Homo sapiens: one gene and its partner. Each later gene encodes a partner of the first gene's protein in a complex. Each region holds a gene or a part of one and is shown in the gene's direction. Other genes may lie near its edges.

Region 1 (8,002 bases):
AAGGAGGAGGAGCTGGTGAAGGTCAGAGAGAAGCAGCTGGCTGCGGAGAACAGGCTCACGGAGATGGAGACGCTGCAGTCTCAGGTGGGTGTCAGTGCAGGCTCAGTCCAGGTCGCACGACCTGCCTGGTGCTGCCACCTGCTGGCCATCGGTAGGCACGGCATGCTGGAAGTTTCTATTACTATAGGAGTTTTCTACAACTGAGTTTCCTATTACTGTAAACAGTGACCAGTCTCTCTGCAGACCCCATTGGGTGTTAAGTGATGTAGGGAGGCCACTTAATAGAGTGGAACGTTCACAAGTGTTGGGTTCAAACCTCAGCTCTACCACATGACTTGAGCCCATTTCCTGGGACCTTGCTCTGGAGCTCATGGGGTAGTGAAAAATCAAGGACACGATGTCTGGAAGGTACCTGGAAGCTTCAGAGCTCTCCAGATGAAAGCTACTTTTGTCTGCATGTTCCTTTCCCTCTGGGATCCCGAGCCATGGCGTCCGTCCTTGAGGATGGAGTGGCTTGAGGGTGTTGCGAGGAGCTTGTGTTTTCCACTTGTTGTTTGCAGCTCATGGCAGAGAAATTGCAGCTGCAGGAGCAGCTCCAGGCAGAAACCGAGCTGTGTGCCGAGGCTGAGGAGCTCCGGGCCCGCCTGACCGCCAAGAAGCAGGAATTAGAAGAGATCTGCCATGACCTAGAGGCCAGGGTGGAGGAGGAGGAGGAGCGCTGCCAGCACCTGCAGGCGGAGAAGAAGAAGATGCAGCAGAACATCCAGGTTCCTGCCCGCTGCACCCGGGGAGGGGTGGCGCCGGAGGGGCAGGGCGGGGCGGAGGAGCAGGAACCAGGAGCTGGGAGAACATGGAATTAGGGTCCAAGGAGGCTGCTCCTCACGCAATCTGCTTGGGGCTCTCAGTGAGAGGTGTTCCCTTTGGGCTGGTAGTTTGTGACATGTGCATCTGAGATCTCCATGAGCACTGCCTGGGCCAGCATCAAGGCCAATTTGATTTCCCTGCCATTAGCCCTGGCCCTGGCTAGCCGAAGGGGCACAGGGCCAGCACCTCTGCGTCCTGCCTGTTTCATGGGTGGGAGCTTGCTGCAGGAAACCCTTCAGAACATTGCACCGATGTTCTGGCCCTGTGTCCCAGTTTGAAATCTGGAATCCTACAAATGGGGCTTGGGCCCTGCCTCGGCTGTGGCCCTGGGCTGGCGGACCTTGCCGTCCCCACCTCAGCCATGGCCCTGGGCTCACAGACCTTGCTATTTTCTCCTTGGCGTTTGGATCTGGCCTTCGGACCTTGCTGCCTTCACCTTGGCCATGCCTCTGGGCCTGCTGTCCTTACCGTGTCTCTGGCCCCCGGCAGGAGCTTGAGGAGCAGCTGGAGGAGGAGGAGAGCGCCCGGCAGAAGCTGCAGCTGGAGAAGGTGACCACCGAGGCGAAGCTGAAAAAGCTGGAGGAGGAGCAGATCATCCTGGAGGACCAGAACTGCAAGCTGGCCAAGGTGAGGCCCGTGGCTGTCGCCTGCCGCTGCTCCAGGGGCGCCGTGGATGGGAGAGTGTGGTCACCCTTGCAGGGCCTGGCTCCCCGCTGCTGCTGCTTCCTGTCTCTTCTGCCTGCAGCATGAGGGCTTCTGCTTAACTGCAAGTGCTCCCTGGAGGTCCCATGGGCCTTAGTTGAGGGATTTCCTCATAAGCAAAGGGGCCCTGGGGAAGGGTTTGTCCTTTCCCCTCTGGAAAGCTCTTCTTTGCCAGCCGTGAGACCCGAGCCTGTGTAAAGGTGGCCATCTGTGCAGCATTGCAAGTGTTGGTCACTGTGGGGTTGGGGACACCTTGGTGGCTCTGTGTTGAGATACGGGGTACTCTTCCTCCACTGTCCCTGGGCGGCAGCTATTCCTCTTGAGAATGAGTTGGGTCCCTGTCGGTGTCTGCCCAGGGAGCAGATAGCAGCCGGGGAACCAGTTAGAGGAGAAGGCAGGAGAAGGCAGCCTCCCCACCTTTCGGGCCTCCTCAGAACATGGGAGCCCCAAAGGCTGGGGAGGCTGAGGTGGCAGGACGCCCACCCGGGACTGGGATGAGGGGACTCAGGTGCTTGTGCCGAGCTGTGGCCGCTGGGCAGGGGTGTTGCAGGGGCCACACAGAACAGAAAGCAAGGAGAGCAGCCCGGGGCACCGCGGGGCTGAAGAGGGGGAGGGGCCGTGGCCCACCTGGCAGGTGAGAGAGGGGCACGGAGAAGGTGGCCTGGTGGCGCAGGTGAGCGCCGTGTGGCAGCCTCTTGAAGGAGTGGAGCCATCTGTCCCTGCTGACACTAGCTGTCACCTGGAATCCTTTCTCACCCAAGCCCACAGGGGAAGGGGAAGGGCTTGGGCACCCACATTTTTTGGTTCTAAGGAAGCGTACCTCGCTGTTTCAGGGGAGCTCGTGACCTTTCAAAATTATCCTTTGATCTAGGAAAATCCTAATGAACTTGATCAAGCGTCTAAAGCCCTCTCCATTCAGCCCCAGATTTCCGGGCGAGTCATGCTTTGAGGCTAGCAAGTGTTCTGTGCTCAACCAACACTAAATGCCAGCCTACTCCCCTCTCCCCAGGAAAAGAAACTGCTGGAAGACAGAATAGCTGAGTTCACCACCAACCTCACAGAAGAGGAGGAGAAATCTAAGAGCCTCGCCAAGCTCAAGAACAAGCATGAGGCAATGATCACTGACTTGGAAGGTGAGGGGGTGACGAGCAGGAGGTGATGGGCAGGGGCTGGCGGGCAAGGGCTGGCGGTCAGGGGCCGGCCTGTCTGACCGGAACACCGAGGCCTTCTCAGCTCACGGGTGAGCCTGGGTCACACTACAGCACTGGCTGCTGCCCTTTAGACCTGAGGTCACCAGGTCGAGGGGAGCCGTGTCTGGTGCCTGCGGGAACCTGAGCCTCCAGGCCCCTGTTGCTCTGTGGCTAGATGCCCCCACTGCATGAAGCGTGTTTAGAGAGCTTTGGCATTGCTCTGTTGTGTGCCGTGGGTTTTGGAAGCTTCTGAGACTTCCTAGGAGGCTCCGGGTTTGACCCACAGGACTCACTAGCTCTGTCACTGACTAGCTGGCTCATCTTGCAGCTATGACTTAAGCTCCATGAGCTTTAGTTTTACCTAAAAAGGGGACACAGTGCTAGGGTGTCTGTGAGAATTTCATTAAATACATGTGAACACATATGTACCGTAAAGTCCTAGACGAATACTGCGGAAGTTCATTGCTTGACTTGGGGCAGGGTGACAAATCCTGCCTTGTCTCTGTGTGCCCTCGGGATCTGTGGCAGGGAGGGGGTGCTGGGGTAGAAGCACAGGTCCGTGGCTGTCTGAGGACCCCCAGCCCTGCCCCTTGAGAGGAGTGGACAGCTGGGGGAACAGGGGAACCCCGACTACTCTGGGAACTCTGAGCTCATACCCAGGGGAGGGAGACCAAAACCTGACCACCGGGAGGATTATCCCCAGCTTAGTTTCACAGTCTTGTCCGGCCCCCTCACATCTGCAGGGGATGAGGTGAGTCAGGTCCAGCAGAAGAGAGGTCCGGACACAGAGAGATCTCTTCCCTCACAGACACCCTCCCTCACCTGGGAGGAGCCCGGAAGACTTGGTCATCTAGGAGGTCTAGGGGTTGCCTTGCACCCACCAGATGGACAGACATGAAAGGTTGACACTAATAAGGGCTAACATAGACACGGAGCTGTCAGAGCACACATATGCTGCTGCTGGGACTGCAAACTGGTAGACGGCGTTAGAGAACGATCCGGCAGTCCTAGTGAGGTTGAAACTTAGCATGCCGGTGACCTGGCCGTTCCATCCGTCACTCAGCCGTGTGCACTGAGAGTGAGCAGGATGCTTGCAGCAGCGTTGATCAGAGCGTGCGATGAACACAGCCGCATGCCCGCCAGCTGCAGGACGGGTACATAAGTAAGTTGTGGTGTATTCTCATAATGGAATCCTAGACAAATGTCCTTACACATCTATTCCAGCGAAACTTCACGGGCTACATCTCAAGATCACGTGATGGGGTGGCAAAGGCACGGCAGGGAATAACCATCACGAGGCAGGCACTGTTCTAGGTGCTTTTTAAGATAGTAACTCATTGGCGCCTCACAGCATCCTAATGAAGTAGGCTGTCTCCTTTTGCTTATTATTCAGATGAGGTATAGAAAGTAGCTTTCCCAAGTGACATCACAGAGTTATAAAGCTAGACATAGAGCCCTGACCGTGCGATTCCAACTGTGGAATTCACACAAGGCAGTTCCATTATATAAGTTCAGATTCACACACAATTGAACATGTTTTTTAGAGATACAGACATGGTACAGCCTTCAAGGGAACCAAGGGAATTACAAACACCAGCTTTAGGAGAGTACTTAATTCCTGGCAGGGAAGGACAAGGGGTGAGTTGGAGAGAGACATGCCAGGGGCTAGCAGTTTGCAGTGATGTCCTCTTCCTGCATCCAGGAGTTGGGTGCGAGTGTCTGTGTGTTTGTGATGCTTTAAGCCTGACACACGTTTCATAACGAGTGCTCAGTATTTTGTATAAGTAATTGACACGGAGACAGAACCCATGGCACTGAGGGCTATGTGGGCTCCCCCTGCATTGCAGAGCGCCTCCGCAGGGAGGAGAAGCAGCGACAGGAGCTGGAGAAGACCCGCCGGAAGCTGGAGGGAGACTCCACAGACCTCAGCGACCAGATCGCCGAGCTCCAGGCCCAGATCGCGGAGCTCAAGATGCAGCTGGCCAAGAAAGAGGAGGAGCTCCAGGCCGCCCTGGCCAGGTGAGGACCCCGCCTGCCCGCCTGAGGCCAGGTGGCCTGGGCCAGCCCTTCCTGCTTGCTGCTGGCCCTAGTTCTCGGCACTAGTGAGCTGTGAGCATTCTTTCCACTGTTGTCTTAAAAGAGCCATTTATTTCATAGCAAAACAGTTCTTGTGCACTCAGGGCATGGTGAGGGGCCTCATTTGTCTTTTGTTTGTTTATAATTTGAAAAAAAGTCATCCACAGCTCTATCACCCACCTACAATAGTCCTTTCCTAATTTCTTGCTATAGGCACACTTAAAAAAAAAAAAAAAAAAAAAAAAGACTTGACCAGGCACGTTGGCTCACGTCTGTGATCCCAGCACTTTGGGAGGCCAAGCCGGGTGGATCACTTGAGGTCAGGAGTTCGAGACCAGCCTGGCCAACATGGTGAAACCCCCATCCCTACCAAAAATATAAAAAATTCGCCAGTGTGGTGGCACACGACTGTAATCTCACCTACTCAGGAGGCTGAGGCAGGAGAATCACTTGAACCCAGGAGGCAGAGGTTGCAGTCAGCCAAGATCGTGCCATTGCACTCCAGCCTAGGTGACAGAGCGAGACTCTGTTTAAAAAAAAAAGAAAGAGACTTTATTTTTTAGAGTAGTTTTAGATTCACAGAAGAGTCAGCAGAAGATTCTCCATCTATCCACTGCCCCACTCACGCACCGCCTCCCCTGCAGTCAACATCCCCTACCACAGTGCTGTGTCTGTTCTAATTGGTGAACCTACGTTGACCTGTCATAACCATCTAAAGTCCGTAGCACATTCGTATTTTTACTGAGTTGCAGTTGTCCTGTGGTGTAGCGTTTTATTTCCTTTTCTTCCCATTTAACACATCATTTGACTTTTAAAAATATTTGAAGCAGTGAATCTTACTTTGGAAATTGAAACGATTCCTCTATGAGGTTTTCTGCTTCTCAGAGGGGTGTTGCCCTTCAATCTGGTTGTCTCAGATGTTGTTTCTGCTGAGAGCCATCCTAAGTGCCATGATTGTGACCACAGGAGGCAGCTTTGGCTGCTGCAGCTCTCTCAGGCCTGTCCTGCAAACTCTGCTCCTTGGAGGTGAAACTCTCCTTATACTGATGTTGCTGGTCGCTTTGGCAGAGTGGAAGAGGAAGCTGCCCAGAAGAACATGGCCCTCAAGAAGATCCGGGAGCTGGAATCTCAGATCTCTGAACTCCAGGAAGACCTGGAGTCTGAGCGTGCTTCCAGGAATAAAGCTGAGAAGCAGAAACGGGACCTTGGGGAAGAGCTAGAGGCTCTGAAAACAGAGTTGGAGGACACGCTGGATTCCACAGCTGCCCAGCAGGAGCTCAGGTGTGCCCTGGGACCAAGTCCCTCGGGATGGGGAGGGCAGCCAGGGGGGCCTTGGCTTGGAGACATGGACCCCGGGCCTCTGCACACACACACACACACACACCGTGGCCCTCTTAGGCACCAGCAGGCATGGAAGCTGCTGGTTCCTCAGCGGTTTCTCTCTACAGAGTAGAAAGTCTGTTGAAGGACCTGGCTCAAAGTTGGGGGTGAGGCAAGGCTGGGCTTTAAAGCTGAAAGGCTACAGAAGCTCTCACAGGGCGTATTTGAGCCTGGGCTATGGGATAGATGGCTAGGAGGGGCCGGTGGGTAGAAAAGCTGCCTGGAGTGCCTGTGCCCTGGCCAGGCCTCTCTTTGGTCAGGGAAGAGCCCCAGGGACAGCCTCGCTCCAGCATCCCCGGCCTCCACTCTGAGGGGATTTCTCTGTCCAGGTCAAAACGTGAGCAGGAGGTGAACATCCTGAAGAAGACCCTGGAGGAGGAGGCCAAGACCCACGAGGCCCAGATCCAGGAGATGAGGCAGAAGCACTCACAGGCCGTGGAGGAGCTGGCGGAGCAGCTGGAGCAGACGAAGCGGGTGCGGAGCCTCCCTGAGACCGCAGGGGGAGGGCAGGGTTCCCCGTGCTGGGCCCACAGAATCCAAACCAGTCCTGCAGAGCAGTTGCAGGGTTCTACCCAACTGCCTGGTTCTGAGGCCAGGCTCCCCTTCTAAGGGGCTTTGTGACTCGTGCCTCAGTTTCCCTGTTCATAAGGGAGGATTATGGTATGTCTGTCTCGTGATTATTTGAGGGTGAAAACATTACATCGTTACTTTGAACATCAGACTTCAGACAGGCTTTATTGGAAGTCTAACTGCAAACAATTATAGTTCCCCTTATTGCGTTACAAATATTGCTAACATCTGCAACACCAATGCCATGCCCTAGAACCTGGCCTCTACCCAGGGCAGAAGGCTGGGCAGGTATTATTTTAGAGATGGGGAAGCTGTGAGATGTCCTAAGCAGTGAAGACAGGAACCAAGTGTCACCCACCAGCTAAGAGAGAAGAGGACAGGACAGATGAGGCCCGAGCCGTCTGAGTCCAGGACGCAGGCACACCGTCGTCAGGGCTGCAGAAGCAGCGATGTCTGGATCTAGGGTCCAGTGATGATAGACCAGCCAGCCTTGTGTCAGGAGGCCCCCACTCACGTCTTTGCTTTCTTCCCTGCTAGGTGAAAGCAAACCTCGAGAAGGCAAAGCAGACTCTGGAGAACGAGCGGGGGGAGCTGGCCAACGAGGTGAAGGTGCTGCTGCAGGGCAAAGGGGACTCGGAGCACAAGCGCAAGAAAGTGGAGGCGCAGCTGCAGGAGCTGCAGGTCAAGTTCAACGAGGGAGAGCGCGTGCGCACAGAGCTGGCCGACAAGGTCACCAAGCTGCAGGTGAGGCCTCCGCCAGGACCCTGGCGCGGGCAGTGGGCCCTAGCAGCAGTTGTGGCCCAGGTCCCCAGGTGCATGTGTGCTCTCTGTCTCTCTCTCTTCTCAAACTGGCTCCTCAGACCCTCATGGTTCAGCTTGTGACTCAGGTCCAGCTTTACCTAAAGGAGATGAGGTGGGGCAGGAGCAGTGGGGGTGGGTCCATGGTCCTTTGTGTCTCCCCGCCCGGTGCAGGTGGAGCTGGACAACGTGACCGGGCTTCTCAGCCAGTCCGACAGCAAGTCCAGCAAGCTCACCAAGGACTTCTCCGCGCTGGAGTCCCAGCTGCAGGACACTCAGGTAGGGGTGGCGCCAGGTTCCCAGAAGGTGGACCCCTCCAGAAAGGCCTCTGTGTCCACGCAACATTAGCTTCAGAGCCCATCGGATTGCCCATCCTCTCCTTCATCTGCTTCATCCTGTGGGTGGGTCTCTGCGTCCTCCCA
Region 2 (7,725 bases), on another chromosome or scaffold:
GAAGTGTGTCCCCACTTGGTATTCTGGGGGCCTCTGCAGAGTGAAGAGATGGGGCTGTGATGTGATGGATAAGCCAGACTGTCTCCTCCAACTGAGCTGGAAGGACTTGGCAGGAGACTGTCCCCTGTTCCCAACTCTGGGGGAGGGCAGATGGGGAATGAAAGGGGAGTGGTGTCTGAGCCCAGACTGGCCTTTGATGTGTGCGTGGATAGGTGGGCAGGTGGGGCCTGTAATGGGTCTGCTGAGGGATCCCTGAGGGCATCCTCAGTGTTGACCTACTTGTGTCCCCCATAATTGCTTCCTTCCTTTCTTGGGAGGCTACAAATAGTGACGCCCTGTCTCTAAGCTCCTACAGCTGAAACGCCAGCACCAGTGGTGAGTGCCAGCTGCTTGGGTCCTGCCCTGGGTTGAGTGTCAGGGCAGTTTGGGGACCCCCAGTAGCCAGCCTGACTCCTGACCCAGGGTCTGGCATTGGAAGCAGAGAGATGACCACAGGCGGGCCTGACACGGGGAGGGAAGTCAGATATAGTGGACGCAGAGGTTTCCTTACACAGTGAGGGGCTGTTGGGGAAGTTTGGGCAGGGAGGTGTGTAGAGCTAAGGTCTGCCTTGGGGTGGGAGCACTGGGCTCAAGGCTCTGGTCTTCCCCTTGATCAGGCCCCTCACCTGCTCCTTGCCTCCTTGCTTCACCTCTGAGTCTCCTCATTTCTGAGGATCATGGCCCTTTCCTCTCCTGGGAACCTGGACACCTTGCTCTAATCCTGGGGTGTTTACAATGAATTAAATCCTGGCAGTGCTTGGCACTCCCCACTCCCCTTCCCCTACTTTCCTGCCAGCCACAACCATGCCAGCCATTTGCTCCCAGCAGGGGGCCCAGCAGTGGGCAAATCTTCAGGGAGAGTCTTGGCCCTGGCCGCCCTGTGCTGCAGGACTCTTGTCCCGTGGGGGAATCAGGAGTGAGTCACTGGGCTAGCATGGAAAAAACTCTTGCCTTCCTGGCTGCCTTCGGGTTTTCCCAGGCTGGAGGCATCATCCCAGAAGGGCGGTGGAAGGGGACAGTGGAAGTGGGGGGAGGTGAGCAATTCCAGGAAGGGCTTCCCCTCCAATAGAACAGAGTATCCCTATACAGAACCTCCCTGCTCAAAACCCCCAGGGGTCGGGAGGGTAACCTCAGGGGAGGCCAGTCTCAGATTGGTAAACACCCGAACTGGTCAACTCTCAAGAGACCATCTGGTTCAGGTTCCTGACTGGGCCAGCGAGGTGAGATGAACCCCAACTTACAGATCAGGCCCCGCCCCTGAGACCCAGAGAGACAAATGGCTCACCAAGGTTGCACAGCTGGCGACAGGCAGAGAGGATCCCACAAGTTTTTCTTCTGGGTGCAGCTTCCTCGAGTTCAGGGCAGGAGGCAGGGTGAGGGCAGTGGTGGTGAGGCTGTGGGGGCGCCTCTCAGACCTGCCCCTCCCTGCTAAGGCCTAGCTTCTCCAAGGGCTGAGGGCAGAGAAGCACAGGGCCAGGCTCTCCTTGTGCAAGTTCCTGCAGGGAGGGAGGCTTCTAGGGCATCTCATGGGCTGGGGCAGACTGGGACCGAGCCATCCCTGGGTGTTGGGGATAAGAAGAGGTGGCAGATAATCTGAGAGTGCTTAAGGAGCCCCACGGTGGGGTGTGTGGGTGGTGGGGTAGGATGCTGTCTCTCTGAGGAGTTTACAGCGATGTTGGGGCAATGAGACCTCTACATGGGGAAATAACAACAGGACAGCAGGGGGATAAATTAGGAGGGGCTGGTGTGGTCTGGGAGGGCTACTCAGAGGAGGGGGAGACTGCGGGGCCTGAAGCCTGATGGAGGTTAAGATGGGTCTGGGAACAGTCTCTGAGAAACACAGAGGGCAGAGGTGAGCTGGGGGGCTGGCCTGGAACTCTGCTGTGAGCCACACCCTTGTTCTGTGACAGTGAGGATGGCCAGGCCTCTGGAGCAGGCGGTAGCTGCCATCGTGTGCACCTTCCAGGAATACGCAGGGCGCTGTGGGGACAAATACAAGCTCTGCCAGGCGGAGCTCAAGGAGCTGCTGCAGAAGGAGCTGGCCACCTGGACCCCGGTGAGCAGTCAGAGTGTCCGTCCCCTCCTCCTCCGGGGGGAGGCACTGCCTAGACTCTGCAAAGAGAGACCTGGGGACAACAAGCATGAGCACAGGACAGCAAGGGAGGGGGCTGGATTGTGAGGAGGGAGTGGGAGGGGGAGAACTGACACAGCAGAAACCTCAGCTTCCTCATCTGTAAAATGGGATGACAATCATCCCTGCTGCCTTGCAGAGCTGTTGAGAGGACTGAGTGAGAGCACCATGAAGAATGCCTAACACTTGGTAGGCACTCAGTAGCAAATAGTAGGTGCTCGATTAATAATCTGAGAGGACAGATTTGGGAGGGGATTGCAACGAGTGCATTATCAGAGCAGGGAGGTTGAAGTCGGCCCTCAGAAGGGTGTAGTTTGGGGTGGGGTGGGTCCACTTGGGAGAGGAAGGAGGGAGGTGGCGTGTGAGGCTGTTCTGCCCTCCTCATCCTACTCCCTTACCTCTCCCAACCCTTCCCTTGCACAGACTGAGTTTCGGGAATGTGACTACAACAAATTCATGAGTGTTCTGGACACCAACAAGGACTGCGAGGTGGACTTTGTGGAGTATGTGCGCTCACTTGCCTGCCTCTGTCTCTACTGCCACGAGTACTTCAAGGACTGCCCCTCAGAGCCCCCCTGCTCCCAGTAGCCTCTGCTCCAGGGGGTGCGCTGGCTGTCGGGGGCTGGGCATGTCTCCCACACCCCCTCCTACCCTCTCTCCTGTACCCCTTTCAATCTGGACTTGCCCAGGTCTTCTGCGATCAGTTAACCCATTTTACCTAGGAGGCCCAGAGATGTGAGGGCTCCTTCCTCAGGATGCCCAGCGAATGAGGGGTAGAGCCACTCTGGGGCCCAGCCTGCCTGCCGCACCCCTGTGGCCTCCCTTGTGGATGGGAGGAGGCGGGATCTGCTCTGAGGCCCTCGAGGCTCAGCAGAGCGTGCACCAATGAGACCACGATGGGAAAGGGCCTATTTAACTCCTAATAAAAAACTGGCATCAGCTTGGTTTTGTTTGGTTCTTCTCTGAGGACGCGTCTCCTGAGCTCTTTGCTCCTCTCTGGCCTTTTCCACTGCGGGAAGGCAGCTGAGGGCAGGGGCAGGGTGCTCCCTGAGGGAAGTTGCAGACCCTGCAGAAATGCAGTGGCCTCCAGGGTCCAGCAGGAGGGCGTGGGGACAAAACAAGGACCCCTGTCCTCCCTTCCTCTCTCTCTTTCTTTGGGATCTTTGAGAGAGGACTGCCTGAGTTTCCCCTGGGACTCAGTGCTCATGGTTGGAGGAGGGTGGGGCCGTGGGTGCAGTGGGGGTGTTTGTTCCCTGCCTCGGGCTGTGGGAGCCCAGAGAGCAGCACTAATGGGATTAGGGTGTCTGAGGTGTTTCTCCCAGCCAGGAAGGGGTGCTCTGTATGGAGGGGTAAGGGAATAACTTGAGCTAGCCCCTATCCCTGAAGCCGCAGCCCCCTGAGGGCCTTAACCCCCTACTTCTAACCCTCACTGGGTTTGTAGCCCACCCTGAGAGGTTGACCCGAATTATAACTCCCCTATTTCATGCCATTTCACCTCTAACTCTCCACCCCAACCTGGATTCTTCATTCCTGACACTCATCCCAACTTTAAATGGCCCCTCCTGATACCCTCTCCGAACCTGAGATCTATCCGTGAGCCCCCACGCCTCACTGCCACTCCACTCCATCACTACCTCACCCAGGACCTTTCCCACTGACGTTCCTGAGGTGGTCCCAGAGCCTCCTTTGGGTGTGAGCCTGTTCCCCTCCAGATCCCCCCGCCCCGACCCTGAGCCTTACTTGGCATGGCAGACAGTACCGGGCATGGGGATCCCCACCCCAGTTTTTGTTTCTGAATCTTTATTTTTTTAAGAGACAAGGTCCTCTGTGTTGCTCAGGCTGGAGAGCAGTGGCTTGAGCATAGCCAACTGCAGTCTCGAACTCCTGGGCTCAAATGATCCTCCTGTCTCAGCTTCCTGACTAGCTGGGACTACAGGCTACAGCCATGCTGCCCAGCTAATTAAAAAAAAAAATTGTTTTTCCTTTTTATAGAGACAGAAGTCTCTCTATGTTGCCTAGGCTGGTCTTGAACTCCTGGCCTCAGGCGATCCTCCCATCTCCCCCCTAGCTTTTGTGTCACCACATTTCCAGGGCAATCTCCCACCTGTCACCCACCACCCCCTGCATCTCCTTTCCTAGGTCCCCATGGGACTACTCCCTGTCCCCCATGCTCCAGGCACAGGCTGCCCCTTCCTCCACCTCTCTAAAACTCAGGCTGAGCTATGTACACTGGGTGGTGCCCATCTCATCCAGTCCCCTGCTAGTAACCGCTAGGGCTTACCCGTTACCCACGGGTGCCCACCTGGGAACAGGAGGCTTGGTTCCACGGCTGGGCTGGTGGAGGGTGCTGTGGCACTTACCGCATCAGCCCACAGCAGGAAGGCAGTATCCGCTCTCCCCTGTCCCCTGCTATGGGCAGGGCCTGGCTGGGGTATAAATAGGTCAGACCTCTGGGCCGTCCCCATTCTTCCCCTCTCTACAACCCTCTCTCCTCAGCGCTTCTTCTTTCTTGGTTTGGTGAGTTGTGTTGGCCTGACTGGCATGCAAGGGGTGTCAGAGGCCAGGGCTGGGGAAGGAGAAGGGGAGGCTGGTGGGGGCCAGATGTGCTAAAGAGATCCAGATGTGAGATTCTGATGTGGAACTCTGGGTGGATTGTGTGCGTGGGTGTGCATGGCACACACACACATGCACGTAAGACGGAGGAAAAAACAAACAGAAAAGTGAGCAAGTGACTGAATTTGAGCTCTCCAGGTGCTTCTGAGATGTGGGCTTGCACACGCTGTTGCTATAGTACGTGTTGGTATGTATGTGCCTGTGGGTATCTGCACTGGCTCATGTTTGCTGGGTTGCGCACTCGGGAGCAGGAAGCAAAGGAAAGGCAGAAGGCAACTGTGGGCCTTTGTCTGGTGGTGTGCCCCATGAGCCTCTGCCCTGCACGCAGCAGCCCAGCTCGAGAAGGTGCATGGCCTCTGCAGCTTCTCTTCCAACCCTTGCCTCTGCCACCTCACTTTGCCCCTCCCCATGCTGAGAGCTAAGCGGCTGTGCTGGTTTTTTCCACTGCAGGCCCCTGGGCAGGCCTCCAGCAGCCACACCCAGTTCTGGGAGGGAAAAGAATGGCAAGGGCGGGGCCTTTGTGGCTGAGCTGTGGGAGTGGATAGACTGAGTGAGGGGTGGAAAAAATGCTGTTGTTGAGGCAAGGCCTGGGAGGCCCTGGGAGTTTGCTGCCCGAATCTCCAGAGCTTGCGCAGCGGATCTTGCAAATGTTCACTGCCCAGAGCATGTGTTCCCCACTGTGCACACCCTCCCAGCCAGGTGCGGGGGCCCACTGCTCTGGGCTCCCCCAGGGAGGGAGCAGAGTCTCGCCAAGTGCTCCTGGAGGGATGGGAGTGGAGCCTGGCATTCTGAACACATCTCTGAGGGGTGGGATTAATAAGACGGTCTCTGTGCCTCCTGCTCCCAGATCCTGACTGCTGTCATGGCGTGCCCTCTGGAGAAGGCCCTGGATGTGATGGTGTCCACCTTCCACAAGTACTCGGGCAAAGAGGGTGACAAGTTCAAGCTCAACAAGTCAGAACTAAAGGAGCTGCTGACCCGGGAGCTGCCCAGCTTCTTGGGGGTGAGTGGGTAGTGCCTGAGTGAGTCCCCACGTGGGGCATTTCCCACAGAGGAGGGCAGCAGTCTTGCTCTAGAGCATTAGCTACAGAGGGCATCTATCAGTGGGGTGGCTGCCTGGGGTGGAAACACATTGAACACCACCACTCACTGCCTGGCCCCATGCTGAAAGAGGGCTGAGAATGAATGGGTCAGACACTGCCAGGTGCTTTGCACAACTTAACTGAAGGGAAGACTAAGCTCAGAGTGCTAAGTAACTTCCCAAGGTGGTCAGTGTACACAACTGCCATCCGGACCGGGACTGTCTGACTCTTGCCATCACTCCAACAGTGGACACTGTTTGAGTTTCTATTTGGCTTGTAGATGTGAAGACACAGATGTGGAGATGATCACAGGCCTGCAGACGTTCCCTTCAAACAATAACAATGTATATTTGTATCAAACATAACACAGTTTATATATTGTTTTCATGACTATTACTACCTCATGGGATTATTAGAACAACCTTGGGTGAAAATGTAGTGGTCCCGTCATTTTTCCATTGCACCAGGTACTCAGACTTCCTTATCCAAGGAGCACCTTCTCCACCCTAGCTTAGCCTTGAGGGTTGGAGTTCCAAACTGGACCTCCCAAAGGAGCCTCCCTGAACTCTGGTCTGGGAGTAGAAACTGGGTCTGGTCCTGGCTCCACCCACTGGGCTTCTGTTTTCTATCTGTAGCCTCTTCTCCCTCCAGAAAAGGACAGATGAAGCTGCTTTCCAGAAGCTGATGAGCAACTTGGACAGCAACAGGGACAACGAGGTGGACTTCCAAGAGTACTGTGTCTTCCTGTCCTGCATCGCCATGATGTGTAACGAATTCTTTGAAGGCTTCCCAGATAAGCAGCCCAGGAAGAAATGAAAACTCCTCTGATGTGGTTGGGGGGTCTGCCAGCTGGGGCCCTCCCTGTCGCCAGTGGGCACTTTTTTTTTTCCACCCTGGCTCCTTCAGACACGTGCTTGATGCTGAGCAAGTTCAATAAAGATTCTTGGAAGTTTTGAGGCTGATGGTTTGAGAGACTCTGGGGGCGTGGGTTGGGGACTGAGGGATATGTTGTGGGGTGGTGGTGGGGAGAGCTGGGAGTTGAGCTGAAGTTTTATGGACAGCAGACCAGTGAAGTTAGGGGAGGGATGCAGGGTGACTAACAGTGTGTGTGCACAGGCAATAGAGTTCACTCGGTGTGGTCAAAGCCGAGAAGGGGACCCCTCACCACCCCCCTGCCAAGGTTTGGAAGGTCCCAGCTGTGGGATCTCAGCCAGCCCACTTACCCCTCCCACCTCTCTCCAACCTTGCCTCTGGCAGGATCTTGAACCGAGGCTGGAATTGAAGGTCATATCTGTTCCTGGTTGGGGTCTGGAATGGAGTTTGGGTGTCCTGGGAGTAAGTCGGAGGGAAAAGAATAAGGCTGAGTTGCAGGGAGGAAGTATTTAGGCGAGAGTGGGATGGGGAGGAGGGCTGGCACTCAGTGCTGACGTTGACAGTCCAGGCCCTGTCCTGCCACCCACTTCCAGATCATTGGCTTCAAACCACAGGGATGGATTAATCCTTTCCTGTGCGTGGTAGGATCAGGGAGGGCAATGTGGAGGGAGACCCGCTGTTTGCAGCAGCATGAGAATATAGGCATTCTCGAATCCACCGTCTCTGCCATAAAGGTCCCTGGATGAGATCTGTTATCAGTCAGGAATCAAGCTCCTTCAGAGAAGGACAGGGGACCTCAGAAGAGATGAGTGGGGGTCAGTGGCTGGAGTGGGAGTGAGGCAAATGGTGGGAAGGTGACCATAGTTTTGGAGACAAAATTCCACATATATGATCTGACAAATGAAATTGAGATTATTTTCCCCCCAGAAAATATAAGGCATGATATTGCTTCCCCTTAGGTAGGTTCAAGGCCAGTGGCTCCAGGGT

What was found.
Region 2: the proteins of MYH9 (region 1) and S100A4 are in contact, whole or in part, in an NMR structure (PDB 2LNK), measured with the Homo sapiens proteins. Residues at the interface, in NP_002464.1 of Homo sapiens: Thr1906, Ala1909, Met1910, Glu1913, Val1914, Ser1915, Leu1917, Lys1918, Lys1920, Leu1921, Arg1922, Asp1925, Leu1926, Pro1927, Phe1928, Val1929, Val1930, Pro1931, Arg1932, Met1934, Ala1935; in NP_002952.1 of Homo sapiens: Leu38 (codon at 5,757), Ser44 (codon at 5,775), Phe45 (codon at 5,778), Leu46 (codon at 5,781), Gly47 (codon at 5,784), Lys48 (codon at 6,517), Arg49 (codon at 6,520), Thr50 (codon at 6,523), Asp51 (codon at 6,526), Ala54 (codon at 6,535), Phe55 (codon at 6,538), Lys57 (codon at 6,544), Leu58 (codon at 6,547), Asn61 (codon at 6,556), Leu62 (codon at 6,559), Ser64 (codon at 6,565), Gln73 (codon at 6,592), Glu74 (codon at 6,595), Cys76 (codon at 6,601), Val77 (codon at 6,604), Phe78 (codon at 6,607), Ser80 (codon at 6,613), Cys81 (codon at 6,616), Ile82 (codon at 6,619), Met84 (codon at 6,625), Met85 (codon at 6,628), Cys86 (codon at 6,631), Glu88 (codon at 6,637), Phe89 (codon at 6,640), Phe90 (codon at 6,643).

Annotation. Positions count from the first base shown.
Region 1 is NC_000022.11:36,293,616-36,301,617, reverse strand, and holds part of MYH9 (myosin-9), read left to right. Parts: coding exon 1-84; intron 85-560; coding exon 561-767; intron 768-1,353; coding exon 1,354-1,491; intron 1,492-2,575; coding exon 2,576-2,699; intron 2,700-4,603; coding exon 4,604-4,775; intron 4,776-5,900; coding exon 5,901-6,113; intron 6,114-6,541; coding exon 6,542-6,686; intron 6,687-7,319; coding exon 7,320-7,526; intron 7,527-7,754; coding exon 7,755-7,859; intron 7,860-8,002. UniProt on the Homo sapiens protein: Cellular myosin that appears to play a role in cytokinesis, cell shape, and specialized functions such as secretion and capping. Required for cortical actin clearance prior to oocyte exocytosis. Promotes cell motility in conjunction with S100A4.
Region 2 is NC_000001.11:153,542,715-153,550,439, reverse strand, and holds S100A4 (protein S100-A4), read left to right. Parts: upstream 1-4,633; 5' UTR 4,634-4,687; exon of another isoform or gene 4,688-4,698; intron 4,699-4,921; exon of another isoform or gene 4,922-4,970; intron 4,971-5,630; 5' UTR 5,631-5,645; coding exon 5,646-5,786; intron 5,787-6,516; coding exon 6,517-6,681; 3' UTR 6,682-6,819; downstream 6,820-7,725. Other genes in the region: S100A3 (protein S100-A3), read left to right, coding at 1,955-2,095, 2,594-2,758; S100A5 (protein S100-A5), read left to right, coding at 7,179-7,200. UniProt on the Homo sapiens protein: Calcium-binding protein that plays a role in various cellular processes including motility, angiogenesis, cell differentiation, apoptosis, and autophagy.